2 separate regions of the Homo sapiens genome follow, and region 2 is linked to region 1. A link means that fine-mapping ties the variant in region 1 to the expression of a gene that starts in the linked region. Tissue or cell type: whole blood. Region 1 holds a variant in brackets; the other region holds the start of a gene. All regions are shown on one strand. Distances are between the middles of the regions.

Region 1 (8,107 bases):
ACATTAAAAAATTTTAATTTATGTGTATGTTATAATGTATATAATATTGGACTATAGTGGTAGAACATGTATATAATTTGTAAATAAATACAGATAAACATGGGGGGATACATGATTCAAAAGTTTTCTCCCTTTGAAATGTTGGCTCAAAGTTTACAAACTTTTCATCCAATATATTACCTCTTCCTAGCAGCATCATGTTATCTTCTCATTTAATAAGAGAGCCTTCATCTTTGTCAATTCATGTTTACTGAACTATGTAGGATTATGTGAATGTTCCAGCATATATAAGAGGATAAGACATTTGCTGTTCTTAGGACGTTTAACTATCTGGATGGAGATGATGATGATAATAGTGGTAATTTTGGAGGAGGTGACAATGTTAATGGTGGTGATGATGCTGATGTTGCTGGTGATGATGATGGCCAAGAAAGAGATAAAGAAGAAAGTCTTATTTATGGTTGAGATTAAAGCAAAATGGGAATTGAAGGCTTCTCCTCCCTGCGATCTGGTAATGCAACATCTTTACCTAGCAGTGATGCTCTTCCCTGCTTGTTCATCTTCCTTCCAATATAGCTTAAAAATACTTTTTAGTCATCCTCAGCATGTACTATAAATCTCAGCTTCCTAGGATTTGAGCCTTGTGCAGGAGGTTTTTTCTAAGCCCCTTCCACTCTTCTGTATGTATTTTGGTCCTCAGTGCTCCACAAGCTGTGAAAGCTGTGAGTCATGATTCCCATATGGTGGGATTCCCTCCCCTCCCCTCCATCCACATGCTTGCCCTGCCATCTGCTGCCACTCTCAAGGTTATAGAGCAAGAGATAATGCAGGGAAGGGAAAGGAAAACACCAGGAAAACCAACACTGTTTTATAAGTAAAATAGAAAAAAAAAGATGTATTTTTCTTACTACGAAAACAACTGTATTCACTACAGAGAAATAAAAAACGGAAGCACAAAACCAAACCAAACCAAACCAAACCAAACCTAACCAAACCCAACCCAACCAACCCAACCCAATCCAAACAAAACAGTCTCCCTCTGAGCATCATTCATCACTTTAACCATCTCCATGTATGTTTTTCCAAATCTGTATTCTGTATCTATCTATGAAGCCAGCTATCAAATAAAATAAGATCATTACCACATATTTTTGTGACCTGTTTCTTGTTTAACTGAATCATGAACATCTTTTCATGTCAGTAAATGTACCCCTAAACTACCTTTTTTTTTTTTTTTAAGACAGAGTCTCACTCTGTCGTCCAGGCTGGAGTACAGTGGTGCAATCACAGCTCACTTCAGCTTTGACCCCCCGGGCTTAAGCAATCCTCCCACCTCAGCCTCCTGGATAGCTGAGTAGCTGGGACTACAGGCATGTGCCTCCATGCCTGGGCTCAAGCGATCCACCCACCTCAGCCTCTCAAATTTCTGGGATTACAGGTGTGAGCCACCATGCTCGGCCCACACTAGCATTTTAATATTTAATGAATATTTTCTATGCAAAGCATTATTCCAATTGCTGCAGTTTATACAGAAAAATAGGTAAGATAGTCTCTGCCCTCATGTGGGTATGGCATCATTTTTTTCTCCCTATCTAACATTTAGGTTATTTCCATATATTTGCTTTTACAAATAATGCTGTGATGAATATCCTTGTAGCTAAGTCCATGCATATGCTCATAATTTTAGAATGATTGTGCTGGCTACTCTCTGTTTGCCCCTCTGGTCTACTCTTCATTCTTGTCTGCCTTGGTCCATGGACCACATCAGGGCTCATTTGCCCTCTGGCAATGTGCAGCTCATGCAGGGCTTTGGGGAGGGCGGTAGAGAAGGGTGGGTGATATATTGTGACTCCTATCCTGCCTCCCTGTAGGCTGTCATTAGCTGCATTCTTGTATTGATGGTTGTGGTGCCTGGGTAGCCCTCTCCCAGAGCTTAGTTCTCAGGATGTTGCAAACCCCAAGGTAATGCACCATTCCTTGTTAGTTTCCTTTAACCTTGCCCTTGCCTTTATAGAGAGTTCTTTATTAAACCTTTCTCACTTACCCCATGTGAGTTTGCCATCTGTTTCCTGGCAGGACCCTGGATGATAAATGCATGCTCCTATTCCTAGCATATTCTGCATCCCTAATTGCTCACCTGCATTGGGAACTTGGGATGGATTGTGTAGGAAGGTCAAGAGCTCCCTTTTTGTTGACTGAAGGACTGGATACCCGTGATCATTGAGCAGCCATCTTCCATTTCTTTCTCCTGGACCCCTCCAGGCTCTGATGGGGATTTCTCAACCTATGCCTGTGGCACTCTGCTGGGGCCCAGAGGAAAGAATCAAGAGAGCCCTTAGTCCTCCTGCTCAGAGCTTTGACCTCAAGTATGTGAGAATTTCACCTTGTTCAGGATGCTCGAAACCTTCCCTAGAGTCCAAGTGAGGTGGGAAAGGTTGTTGTGGTCATTTCTTATCCTTTTAAACACCTGAGCTCACAGCAAAATTTGTTTATTAAATTATTTCTCTAGTTTTAAACAGTATTACAATTTTTTTTTTTTTTTGAGACAGGGTCTCGCTCTGTGGCCCAGGCTGGAGTGCAGTGGCATGATCACGGCTCAATGCAGCCTCAACCTCCTGGGCTCAAGCGATCCTTCCACCTCAGCCTCCCAAGTGGCTGGGACCACAGGTATGCACCACCGTGCCCAGCTAACTTTTGTATTTTTCGTGGAAGTAGGGTCTCCCTGTGTTGCCCAGGCTGGTCTTGAACACCTGGGCTCAAGCCATCTGCCCACCTCAGCCTCTCAAAGTGCTGGAATTACAGGCGTGAGCCACCATGCCTGGCCTATGGTATTCTTATTAAATAGCCAGAAGTATATTTTCAGAGCTTCTAGCTTGGATTAGAGTCCCCTGATACTATTTCTTCTGTGATTCTATCTTTTCTGTGCATCAGTAGAAATGTGTTTTCCTAAAGTCTACAACCAGTTTTACCTTCCTTGCCTTTGGATTTTCAGATAACACAATCAATCCCTTTATTCAAAGGTTCTTCACACTTCTGTTTAATCAATTGTTCTTGACTGTTCAGAATGAAGTGTCTGTCGCATTTCTTTTGTTACCTTCTGTTCAATGAAATTGTTAGCAAGCCTAGTCAAAAATGATCAAATACTCTTCTTTTTGGTGGCAAATGAGAGTTTTCCATGGAGGAGCTTTGGAGGAGGGTTGTAGACAAGGGTGGGTGATATATTGTGACCCCTACCCTGCCTCCCTGTAGGCTGTCATTAGTGCATTCTTGTATTGACGGTTGTGGTGCCTGGGTAGCCCTCTCCCAGAGCTTAGTTCTCAGGAAGTTGCTAACGCCAAGGTAATGCACCATTCCTTGTTAGTTTCCTTTAATCTTGCCCTTGCATACCCTGCATATTTGGGGTCCCCATCGTATTGCCCCGGACCCCGCTCCTTAATAAATTACTGCCTTTGGGAATTCCAGTTCCCAGAGGTGGGCACTAGGAGAAAGTTGGTTTCAGAGTCAGAAAGATCTGGAGTTTAATCTAATCATTATTTATTTATTTATTTATTTATTTATTTATTTATTATTATTTACTTGGCCCTGCCTAAGCAGGACCTCAAAAATTTGGTTATTAATTAATAATTGTTCCTCTCCATGGAAATCTTTAGTAAAAGGCCAAATATTTATTTGTTCTGAAGAGAAACCAGAGCATCCAATATTATTGGCTGTGTGAATCTAAGGCTTCTGCCTTACTGAGTTGCAAGCTTCCTGACTCAGCTCACAGATTATAAGAAGTAAATGGATTGACCTCTAC[G/A]GAAATAATCAAGCACAGTGTGAGGAACTGTGGTTGCTCAGTCTGTGACTTATCCTCCCCAACTCCCTTTCCCACTTCCTCTTGCCATGCCTCTTCCCTCCTCCCTCTCCCCATCTCCCTCCCCCTTCCCTCTCTTCTACATTTCCCCTTTTCTTGCTACTTTCCATTTCCTGTCCCCACCTCTTCTCCTCCCTACTCCTCATCTCTCCTCTACACTTTCTATATGAGACTAACACGAGGACAAGAGGAATTAAAAACCAAGTCAGAAATATGTCAGATAGTTCCATTTCTCTTTGAAAACAAATCTTAGATGTGCAGGGCATTGTACTCAGAAGGAAAACTCCCAATCATAAATCCAGGCTCCAAAAGGCTTTTCCAATACGCCCCATTTAGTTCATGAACTCTCACCGTGGAGCATCAAGGACACAAAGAATGGCAGGAAACTGCTGATAATGTTCATTATTTTCCCAGTCTTTGAAAAATGCCCGTTTAATGTTTTGGACTGAAGATTTTTCCTGGTGAATCAAAAGATAAACTCTTAAAGTGGTTACATGATATATCAAATGGTCTTATCTGGTGGAAGCCAGCCGGCTAGCTAACATGAGCCAGTTCAGTAATTCTGAGGTGTTTGGAGTCAAGCTGGGAAAGGGATCCTGGGTTTCAGGAAACTGCTGTATCAGCTGATGGGGGCTGCTCTAAATGTTGGCTGGAGAAATGCACTTTGGGCCCTTTGCACCAAAATTTAGATTTACCTGGTTTCTCTTCTCAATTCTTACAAATCCTTAGCTTATCAAGGAAAATCAATGATCTTAAGATCTTTTAAGACTTTGCCCCACAATATGATGACAGAAAATATATTTTATCTTAAAATTTTATTACACTATATTATATATATAAAATAAATAATAAATATAATGTATAATATATATGTAAGTTGTGAAGACTATTGACATATAAACACACAGAGGCTGGAACATTAATATCTGGGTTGTTCTCCATGATGTCTGCCTCTCCCACCAAAATACCTGCTCTCCTGAATTTTGCATTCCCCTTCTTTAAAAACAAACTACTGAGTTTTCTGAGCTTCTTCCTAAGGAGTCAGGAGACTCGTGGTCTGGTTCCTGGATTTTCCTCACAACACAGCTCCCATATGCCTTTCTCCACTCATGCCTCAAAAGGAGAAACCAAGACCACTTTCTCCTCTGAGACAGGCAGAGACATCAGCCTTTCTGGGCTTGCTGAAGAAGGGAGAAAAAAAACTACAAGAAGCTATTGAACATATTGATGAAGTAAAAAATGAAATAGATTTAATGAACTAGCCAGTGAGAAGATTTTGACAGTAGAACAGAAATATAACAAACTCTGCCAACCATTTTTTCAGAAGAGGTCAGAATTGATCCCCCAAATCCCAAATTTTGGGGTAACAGCATTTGTCAGTCATCTGTAATCACCCAACGGATTCTTCCTGCCTGCTGCACAGATAAAATCAATTCACTGAGACCATGGTATTGTAGTAGAGGAAGAGTTTAATTGACACGAGTCCGGCCACGCAGGAGATGGAGTTATTACTCAAATCAGTCTCCCTAAAGGCTTGGAGGTTAGGGGTTTTCAAGGATAGTTTGGTGGGCAGGGGACTAGGGAATGGGAAATGTTGATTGGTTGGGGATGAAATCATAGAGGTGTGGAAAATGGTCTTTGTGCACTGAGTCAGCCTCTAAGTGGGGGCTGTAGGACCAGTTGGGTCATGAGCTGCAGTCACAGTCCAGGTAGAGTCATCTGAGTAGAGTCATCCCATCATCAGAAATGCAGAAGTCTGAAAAAATATCTCGAAAGGCCAACCTTAGGTTCTACAGTAAGGATGTTACCTACAGAAGTAATTAGGGAAGTTACAAATCTTGTGAACCCTGGAACAGTTGTTTATGCTTACAATTTAACAGAATTTTGGCCCCTCTCATAATCCTAAACTTGTGGGCTTTGATTCATTTTACAAAGGTGGTGGTGGTTTAGTTTTGGGAAGGGCTATTATCATCCTTGCTTTGGTTAAACTCTAAACTAAATTATTCCTCAAATTAGCTTAGCCTATACCCAGGAATGACAAAGGACAGCTTGGAGGTTAGAAGCAAGATGGAGTCAACTATGTCAGATTTATCTTACTCTCATAATTTTGCAAAAGTAATTTCACATCTGTAAGTGTCTGCACTGCTTGGGGAAGAGGAAGAAGAGGCACCTTGAGCAATATACAATGGGAAAAGAGTCTCTACCCCTTTCTGTTTCAATTCATTTTTATCCCTTTCTGTCTCAACGAAAACTGTATGGAATCAACACCACTGAGCTCTGCGGGAAAAAAGAAAAATCTGCTTCCTTTGCTCTGCTGGAAGCAGAAGGGTGTTAGGCCCCTGTGTGGTAGAGCATAGAATTCTAGCTTTTTTCCTTCTCAGAAAGAACACTGTGTCTCTTTGTGAATAAGGACAATTAGCATTTACCAACATGCATCCGTCTACTTTCTCTTGTTTAAAAACATAAAAAAGAATTTTTTAAAATGGGGTTCTAGGAAGTCAGTAAAGGTTAGGTTTGAGATGTTTGGATGGGTGAAGTGGGCATTTTGACAACATGGTTTCTCCTTTGGTATGTTTAATTGTGGTTTTTTTTTTTAAGCATCAGTTTGGTGAAAAATAATTTTGATGTTTACCAGGCATCCTTGCAGTTTAAGATGACACTAAAAATGAATTCTCTCCTACTGATGACTTGAGCCCTGCCACTTGCTAGAAGAATCAGCAGAACCTGTAGGATCTCATTTGGAATTGGCATGCTCTATTGTAATTTTGTCCGTGTTTATTTTTAAATTTTGATTTACTGGAAAGGAAAGATGATGCTCAGTTTTAAATGTTAAACGTGTACAAGTTGCTTTTGTTACAAAAGACTAAATGTGTACACAAAAACAAAAAAAAATTACTCTTACCAGATGCATTTCTGAACAATTTGTTTAGTTTTGCTTGTTTTTGAGCTTTATGCAAATGTCATAATAATGTATGTAGTGTTTTTTTCCTTCAAGTTTCTAACATTTATCAGTTCATCCGTATCATCGTTTGTAGTTGGTATTCATTTCTTTTTACTAGTGCCTTTGGCCAGGCACGGTGGCTCACGCCTGTAATCCCAGCAATTTGGGAGGCCAAGGTGGGTGAGGTCAGGAGTTTGAGACCAGCCTGGCCAACATGGTGAAACCCCGTCTCTACTAAAAATACAAAAAATTAGCTGGGCTTGGTGGCAGACGCCTGTAATCCCAGCTACTTGGGAGGCTGAGGCAGGAGAATCGCTTGAACCCGGGGGGTGGAGGTTGCAGTGAGCCCATATCACGCCACTGCACTCCATCCTGGGCAACAAGAGTGAAACTCTGTCTCAAAAAACAAACAAACAAACAAACAAAACACCACAACTAGTGCCCTTACATTTCATTTGGTGAATGTACACAATTCATTTATCCATACCACTGTCTATAAATATTTTGGTTGTTTATTGTTTCTGGGTGTTTGCATAATAGTCTTGCTAATGTAGATGAGACATATATTAATAAGAGAGCTGGTCACGGTGGCACATGCCTGCAGTCTCAGCTACTCAGGAAGCTGAGGCAGGAGGACCATTTGAGACCAGGAGTTCAAGGATGTAGTGCACTATGATTGTTCCTGTGAATAGCCATTGCACTCCAGCCTGCGCAATATGGCAAGACCCCATCTCTAAAAACAAAAAAGAATTATAAGAATTTTTATTATTCCTTTGTCGAATTGTCATAAACACTAGGTTAATTTTTCTAGTGTCCCTTTGCTCTTTTTCTCATTTCATCATTGCGATTCATCACCTAAAGAAACTTAGATGCAGGAAAAAAATAAATGATTTGCCCATGCTCTGTTATCACTGCTGTTATTTTCACTGCTGTCAACTCCAAGAATGAGTTAAGTCCTCTCTTGATTCTTCTTGTCCAAACAAAGAAGAGTGCCTTCCATTCTGATACCAGAATTTGAAAGATATTTATTATGATCTCATAAATTTATGACCCAAGAGGCAGTGTGTTATAGAGAAAATAATGTAAGCTCCGGAAGCAGGAAGATTTGGGTTTTAAAATGCTGGCATCAGCACTGGTGCTAGGGGAAGTGTTGTGCAAATTACTTTATTCTAAACCTCATTTTCTCATCTGCAAAATGGAGATAGCAATGTCTTCCTCTAAGGATGGCACACTAATTATATCAGGGAAGATGTGTGAAAGGTCCAGTCATCACATTATAAAATAAGGAACAGAGGGGGCTCACAGCCTGACCA
Region 2 (8,107 bases), 61 kb before region 1:
CTTAAATTCAGCAAATTATTCAAAAAGAAACAAATGGGGAATGAAGTAAATGTCCCCTCAAAAAATGTTCTGTAAAAGAAGAAAGTTTATTTCTTTTAACCTACTTAGAACAATCTTGAGAAATTTATTTTAGGGTATTCAGGGTTTCAGATATTTATAAAATAAAGACGTATAGCATTAAAAAAATTTTAGTGTTAAAAGCCAATCTATGAGTCATTTTGTAACATCAAATTTTTAAAAAATCTGTCCTTGGAAAAATTATCTGTCATATTTAATTGCACCCCCACCATAGCAACAAGGGTACTTAAAAGTTAATAAACACTACTTACAAACACATCTCATGTATACACAAAGTTTTTAAAACATCTATGTGATTGAAATAGTCTACATAGTCAAGGTATTTACACGTGAGTAAGATTCTAAAAATCAGATAAAAGGCATGTCAAATATTAGTCATTACTTTATAGATTTTCGGGGAAAAAGAATTAGACTCTATCTGTACTTGTCTCAATTCAGAGAATTACTCACACAATTTAAAATACTGACCCTACTTTCCCCTGCAATGAAATGAATTCATTAAACTCTTCTATAAAGATGATTAAGCATGAATAATCATTTATGCCTTTAATTATATAACTAGTTTTCAAAGGATTTCCCTGCCTTTATCATTTCAGCCTCAGTAATTATCAATCAAAACACTAGTTATTTTAAAAACACAAAGCTTTACCTTAAACCTATTTCATCTAAATCTTTATTAATCGTTATTTATAAATGTCATCACTGAAGTCTGCAATTTCCTAAATGACCTAACATTTGATTCTATTTCACCTTTCTGACAAACAAAAATTATACCTTTTGTAAACAATCTTCAGATCTCGCCACTCAAGGAAGCTGCACATTTTAGGTTTCCGTGCTAAAACGGTCTGAACAAGTTCTCTTGTGATCTTTTTCTTCTCTTTGTCTGATAGTGGGACATACCATTTTTGCAGTCGAAGCTTTCCCTGACGACTAAAAAGCAACATAAACTGCATCTGTTAAGATAAATAAAATCAAGATTACATGTAATACTTTGAATCAATAAAGTTAAGATTATGTGTTTCACAGAGAAGTTTTGGGGGATGGGGCATTTACATGACAAATGATTAGTAGCCATCAATATTTCTATGCCAATTAAAATAGCAAGAAATTCTTTTGGACAGATCTTCCTCTAGATGCAAACCTTCCAATCCCACCTTGTTCCACATTAAGTTTGAAGGGGAGTGTGCAGGAGAAAAAAGAAAAATGGGTAATAAGCTGAAGTGAAATTTTTGAAGAAAAATAAAGATCACTCTTTCAATTTAAGAAACTATTTTCTACCTGTGCTATACATTGCGCACTCTCTATATGCATCAAAAGAGAATGGTAGACATCATCTGGTTTGGGTACTTTTGAAAGAAACAGAAGACCTGCTATTTTTCATCCTGAGGCCGTTCTAGTTCCAGGGTGAATTACTTGCAGACAGTAGCTTATGTCTTGGAATGTTCTCCTCAGTTTATGATGGCATATTTTAAGCAAAACAGAATGATCCAAAATATTAACTGAAAAATCCCATAAATACAAATTTTCATTAATAAAAAAGTATGTTTTCATCTGACTTTTAAAGCATTCCAACTTAAATATGTACAAAATCTAGAACTGAGTTAATGTATTATGAAAAAGAAAACAAACGTTTAAAAGGCCACAATAAGATTTACACTTATTAAATAAGATTCAGCATTGAAACATTACATGAAATACTTCATTTAAAATAAAAAATAGTATCTACAGATGGAATGGATGCTGAATTCTAGTGTGTTTTATACTTAAACTAATTTGTATGTATTTATTTGTGATCTGCAAATGTGTTGATTAGTCTGCATGTTTCATTTTTAACGCCAAGCTTTTTGTAATCCAATTGGTCATCTCAACTGCAAACAGAAGTATTGTTTCTACAAAGGTAATTTAAAGGCAGAATTCACATAGGTATCCTTTTTTCTTTTAATCACTGTTAAGTTCCTTTAACAGCGTTACTGCAAATAAGATTCAAGCATGATTCTCAAGATTCACCACACCATCTTGAATTTGAACACGGGGAGGGGAAATTTACAGAACCAATGTAGAATAAAAATGGGCCCTAAATTTCGGTAAGAAATTATCGTCGCTTTTTGTAACCACCCAAAAAGGTATCAACAAGATATCTAGAAATGTATGACGTGGCAATTCAACTTTAGTAAAGTTAAAATGGTCTTATTACCTCACTTAAAATGCGTCAGGGGAACAAAATATAAGGACATTATTAGGTGATACCAAAGTGCCTCCCGTGCAAGTCCTGAAGATAGCGGCATTCGAAGGGGGCAGGAAGTGAAGCATCAACTGGGCATTTACTGCAAACCCGTTACCAGAACTTGGAAAAGAATGGACCTCGTATTCCTAGATCTTGGTGACCAGAAAGGGTGAGGGTTTGCCTGCGAAGAGTATGGGCTCAAGGCTGTCTGGAGCAGGGTCCTGTATCCGCCCTACCACTTTGCAGGACGAAAAAACAATGTATTCTCCTTAAAATAAATTATGTCCTAACATGGGACGAAACCCGGTTGCAAAGCACGAGTATTCCTTCCCTCGTGTTAAAAACCAACGCTTTGATTTTGCCGCAAATCACAGGGCACCACAATTCCTCGAGACTGGCATTAAAAACAATGGGCTCAGCCGCGGCGCGGGCTCGGGGCCAGCGTTCCTCGGGTCCGGCCGTCGCCGGTGCCTCCCCCCCACTCCCGTGGCCACACTCCATCACTGACCAAGCCCGGGAGAGGTGACAGGCAAGGAGCGGAGCAGACAATGGCATCCGCCGCCGCGCAGGGGGCGCCAAGAGTCCTCGGCCGCCACCGCCCCCGGCCCCTCCCGAAAGCGCCCCGCAAAACTTGAGGCGATTCCCGAACCACAGGTGCCGCGAGGCTGTCGCGGAGCCCGGGACTGGCCCCCACATCCCCGGGCGCGGCGCGGAGTGGTGCGGAGGGCGCGGACACGGAGAGAAGTGAGTTGCGGGCGCGGCGACCCAGTGGCGGGCCGGGCAGGCTCGGGGTGGGGTCGTCGGGGCGCGCGCGGGGTGGCGGGGGGCGCGCCCAGTCCTCCCTCCCCCTCTCCCCCATCCCCGGCGCCCCCTTTCGCCCCCAGGGACTTACGGCGGCCGCGGGCCGCGGGCGCGGCGGAGCTTGGCCGGCGGCGGCGGCGGCGGCGAAGGGGAAGCCCCTGTCGCCGTGCTGAGGAAGAGAAGCCGTGGTGCTGTGGGGAGGACACCCGGCTGGCATAGGGCAGGCTTAGGCGGAGAGGGGAGGGCAAGCTGACAGACCCCGCCCCGGGGGCCGGACGAGGGAGGAGCCGGGGCTGCGGCGAGCTGAGGGGCGGGCTAGGCGACGCGCGGGAAGCGGCTCAGCGGTCGCCAGCGGCACCGGAGGCAGCGCGGGTAACCGCTGAGTCCAAGGCAGCCGATTGGAGGTTTCTTCGCTGAGGGGAGGTGCGAACCGGAAGCCGGGCCACGTGACCCGGAAGCGGCGTTTGCCGGGCCCGAGCGCCCGCGCGCCCGCGCGCTCTTGCAGGTGCCTCCGGGACGCGCGCGGGCGGCTGTCCTGCTTGTTTAATGATAGGAGGACGGGATTCTGCAGCGTCCTTAGCCTAGCGGGTGGTGCGGGGCAGGGAAGTTCCGGACAGCGAAGAGCCACGTTCGAGCTCTAATGATTCTCTGTGTCCCCAGAGAGGAAGTGTGAAGTGTGACGGCTGACGAGGAGGGTGGGAGGAGACGAGGGAGTGCTGCAACTCTGGAAAAACAAGTCAGCTCTTCTGTGGAGCTCGTCACGCATTCACGGGCCTTTTGCTATCATTCTGCCTCAAAATTGTCCGGAATCCGCCCTCTCCTTCCCATTGCACTGCTCCAGCCCTAGCCCAGACACCTTCCGCCCCGAGCTTCGCGGGAGTCTGTTCCCTGGGCTCGCCTCGCCCATCCTCGGTGCTGCGGACTGGATGAGTTACCGTCCGTTCGGCTGAAAAGCCCGGACAGCACCTCACCTTCGAGATCCCGCTTCCTTCACACTGGGTCGCCCCACCAGCCGCCTGGGTTCCAGTTTAGCACTGCCGACGACTTGCTGTGCCTGGCATGTCCTTGCTCCCAAATGTCACATCTATGAAGCCTCACCCTAAAACCCTGTAAGAGCGATTCCCTCTTTCACCCACATGCCCGTTAGCCTTTATTTAGCACACCTTAAATTGTATTCATTTTGCATCTCAATCTAGTTCACAGCCTGGTATATAACAACTAATAAATGTGAGTTGACTGATAAAGACTATAAAATGATAAATTTGTTAAGAGCTGTAATGCTGAGCGTAATGCCTGGGCATAATGGATGTTCATAATTTTCTGAATGATAGAATGGATGAATCATCTAGTCATTTACAGATAAGGAAAGGGGAGTCCCACGGGATTAGGTGACCTTCCTTGAAGAGCCACGGGTTTCCCATATCGAAATGCTATTCATTACCCGAGTCACCTAGGTTCTTACAAAGGAAGCGAGAAAATTGCTTTTGTTGGGCCATGCCCCTTTTGCAGAGGTTCCTAAGTATAGTCGCCAGAATTTTTTTAATGGCCTAAAGTAAAAAAAGAAATGCTAAAATTTTCACGAAGCTAAATGTAATCAATGTAAAGGAATCCTTTATTAGGGATTATATTCTTTTTGTGTACATTATAGTATCTATGAAACTAAGACAGTAGTTTTGGGGGCTTTTAAAAAATGCTTTTGTATGACAAAACAAAAAGAAATGTGTAATACTTCCCCTTTTCAAGCACTACTGTGCTGCTTGGAAAGTTTCCTACTAACATGTATGATTAATGTATACTGGAATATTAAAGAAAGGGGACGACACACGGCACAGAGCTGGCTTTCTGTAGTTCTTTAGGTCCCCCTCGCCCCCACCAGATTTCTCCCTACCTAGTCATGCCCCAAAGGTGCTTTCGAATGTCCCATTTCTCTCTTACTACAAGAAACAGATGCCATTAACCAGTTAAAAGATAGCTCTAATGCTACACAATGAAAACTCGCCCTCTGAATCCAAATGCTGCTTTTCTCTTTTTCTGTACAAAACACTTATATCCTGAAGGTTCCTGAGATAGCCACTTCCAAGTTTAAACTCTGATTATGCTCCTAATGTTGCTCTGAAAATGAGGACGGGAGACTTGCTGATGACATACTGGCAGTCTCCTTTCCTGCTCCTAGCCAAAAAAAGGTGGGGGTAGGGGTAGGGAGGGGAAGGAATTGTGGGAAAAATAATTAGCAGCTGAAAGCAGCTATTACATAATCTTGGCTGCTTATTAATTTAGCAGAAGGAATGGCTTATTAAATTCTAATAGCAACAGCACAACTGCAAACAACCTAGCAATTAACAGTGCAGGGCCCATTATTTTGTTAATATGTTCTCTTCTTTTGGCAAGTGTATGAGAACAAAATTTATAGAAGCAGATGGTCTTTTTCAATAGATTATAGATGGTTTATTCCCTAGTCTTAGTATTAAGTGCTAATTATGCATTCACTGTGAAAGACAAAAGAAACATGGTTGCCATCTTTGTTAGTAATTAACTGCTTGACTTTGATTCCCACAATTTCCCAATTGTAGGCTTTGTTATATACATGTTTCTTCTCACCTAGTGTCTTCTTCATCCGTCATGTCAATTGGTTATCTTTTTTAATCCTGTTTTTGTTTTCTAGATGGTCCTGATTTATTGGTGTTAATATTGATACAAGAATTATATACAAAATTCGTTTCATGAAAAACTAAAAATCAGATTTTATACTTGTTTCTTAAATTTGAAAAAAATGCTTCACTGTCATTTATGCTAAATGTAAGAGGTGAGGGGAAAATAGAAATCTTTACCTTCTAACGATAAAATTTTGAGACTTTTTATGTAATCTTTCCAAAGTTTTCAAAAATAATTTTAGTTTCCTATTAAATGTGTGATGGCCATATACTTTTATCCTCTCACTGTCTCAAAATACCATTAATTTTTTTTAAAGGGACTATTTAAAACACATACCCACGTGGAAAATAAGAGAGGGAACATTTACATGAGGATGTCGATAAGGATGTCAGGATACACTGTCAGCTCATCATTTAAACACTGATGATTTAAAGAAAAATTGTCATATATTGATATTATGGAGGAGCAGAAGTGAGGGAAGGTTGAAATAATGCTAAATCCTCATGTGCTAAAGGGAAGAAAATAGATAACATCTAAAATAAATCACGAACTAGAATTATTAGCATATTCTTTCGATACCAGGAAGTAAATCCCAGAAGCAATGGTGAATTTCTTTCCATGGACAGAATCTTGCAGTAGGATGTAATAAAGGGTATTATTACATTTTACTTAGGTTTTTTCTTAAATAATTTTTTAAAATATTGTAAGGAGGTAGATAAAAACCATTCCATTAGTTGCTAGCTCTGTATTATGGACTTATACAGAGTTCCTTTAGCCAGTCTATAGATTATTTAGAAATTATTAAATAAAAATGCCCAATAATGGAATTCAGTGCTGAAGCCTTGTAGATCACAGAAAGTGTAAAAAAGATGTTTAGAGTTTGTGAATTTGCATCTCCAAAGATAAAGTTGTTCCAGGGAGAAAAATGGCCTAAAATAATGAGGATTTGTGAACCAAATCATTTCAAAATAGATAGAGCTGTCACTGCCAAAGTCCTCAACAATGAGCTAAAGAGAAATGTGGAACATATGCTCTTTCTCGAAGCCTGTTTCCATAGCTTTGAATAAAATGCAGGAAAATTACTACTGCCCTATGAACATTAGGATAGAGCAGTGATTCTCAGCCTGGGCACTTTTGCCTCCCAGGGGACACTTGTCAGTGTCTGGAGACATTTTGGTTGTCACAACTAGGAGTAGTAGGTGATGCTGCCAGCATCTAGTGGGCAGAGACCAGGGATGCTGCCCAGCATCCTGCAACATACAAGAGAGATCCCATAGCAAAGAATGATCCAGCCCCAAATGTCACTAGTGCCAAGGTTCAGGAAGAAATCCTGGGTTAGTCACTGAAAATATTAACATGCAGTAGCATATTTTTATAGACATTTCAAGAAATGGAACAAACATTATCTTCATATAAGTTTCTCTCTCTCTCTCCCTCTCTTTCTCTCTCTCTCCTCCCTCTCCCTCTCTCTCCCTCTCTTTCTTTCTCAGAGTTGGAGCCATTATTCTTAATATCTGCTAGATAAAATCCTTAACTGCTTAAAAGACTGGAGGCATACATAAAGCAGTCAGTATTCTTTAATAGCAACTAGAATAAACTATCCAAACTGATTTTCAAAAAATGACCCCAGAATATTAGTAAAAGTTACTTAAGCACTTGAATCCATGAGATGCCTATTCCATCCATACATACATTGTAAATGTTTGTTAGGTATCTACTTTATGCTGGGGCACTCTGGAAGGTAATGAAGATATAAAGACAAATAAGATATTGACTTGGTCCTAAAGCTCCATTTCTTCTGACACAGAATTTCTAGTCTTTTAGAGACAAACCCTGGATGGTCAAAGGATAGTCATCAACCAAACGTATGAACATTTTCTTTTAGGAGACCCCTAGAGATGCTTCATAGAACCTTAGATTTCTGTAACCAACACGTTTGAAAACTATGTGCTCTCATGACCTCCCAGGGCTCTTCGCAATATTTTCGTTCGATGAATTTCTATGTCACTCTTAATTCACAGCAATATAAGAGAGAGATTCTGTATGTTTTAAACAAACGATTTCAAATAATGTCTTGATTTGATCCTTGAAGTGAAATGCTTCAACAATGATCTAACTCAACTCCAAATCGCTAAACCAGTGGTTCTAGAATATTCTTTTAGAGGACTTGTGAAAATACAGGTTGCTGGGCCTCATTCCCATAGTTTCTGATTCAGGGGGTCTGAGATGAGGCCTGAGAATTGCATTACTAACAAGTTTCCAGGTGATGCTGATGCTGCTGGTCTGGGAACCACACTTTGAGAACCATTGCTCTATACCACAAAAAGCTATGATATCCAACTAGAAAGTTGT

Evidence for each region. PIP is the estimated chance that this variant, and not a neighbour inherited with it, causes the effect.
Region 2: AP1S2 starts here. The variant in region 1 is fine-mapped to the expression of AP1S2 in whole blood (TOPMed, PIP above 0.99). The same link has a PIP of 0.9 or more in blood mononuclear cells.

Annotation. Positions count from the first base shown.
Region 1 is chrX:15,912,610-15,920,716 of GRCh38, forward strand. It overlaps the pseudogene RNU5F-7P and the pseudogene SETP15. Among named protein-coding and RNA genes, the nearest start is that of AP1S2, 62 kb to the left of the region's middle. The variant G/A (reference allele first, on the strand shown) is at 3,797.
Region 2 is chrX:15,851,494-15,859,600 of GRCh38, forward strand. It overlaps AP1S2 (adaptor related protein complex 1 subunit sigma 2), which reads right to left and starts at 3,320. Exons shown (of 6, transcript NM_001272071.2): 1 at 3,195-3,320; 2 at 853-1,031. The coding sequence starts at 1,031. RefSeq lists silencers at 2,747-3,036, 3,257-3,536, 3,627-3,736 and an enhancer at 3,354-3,958.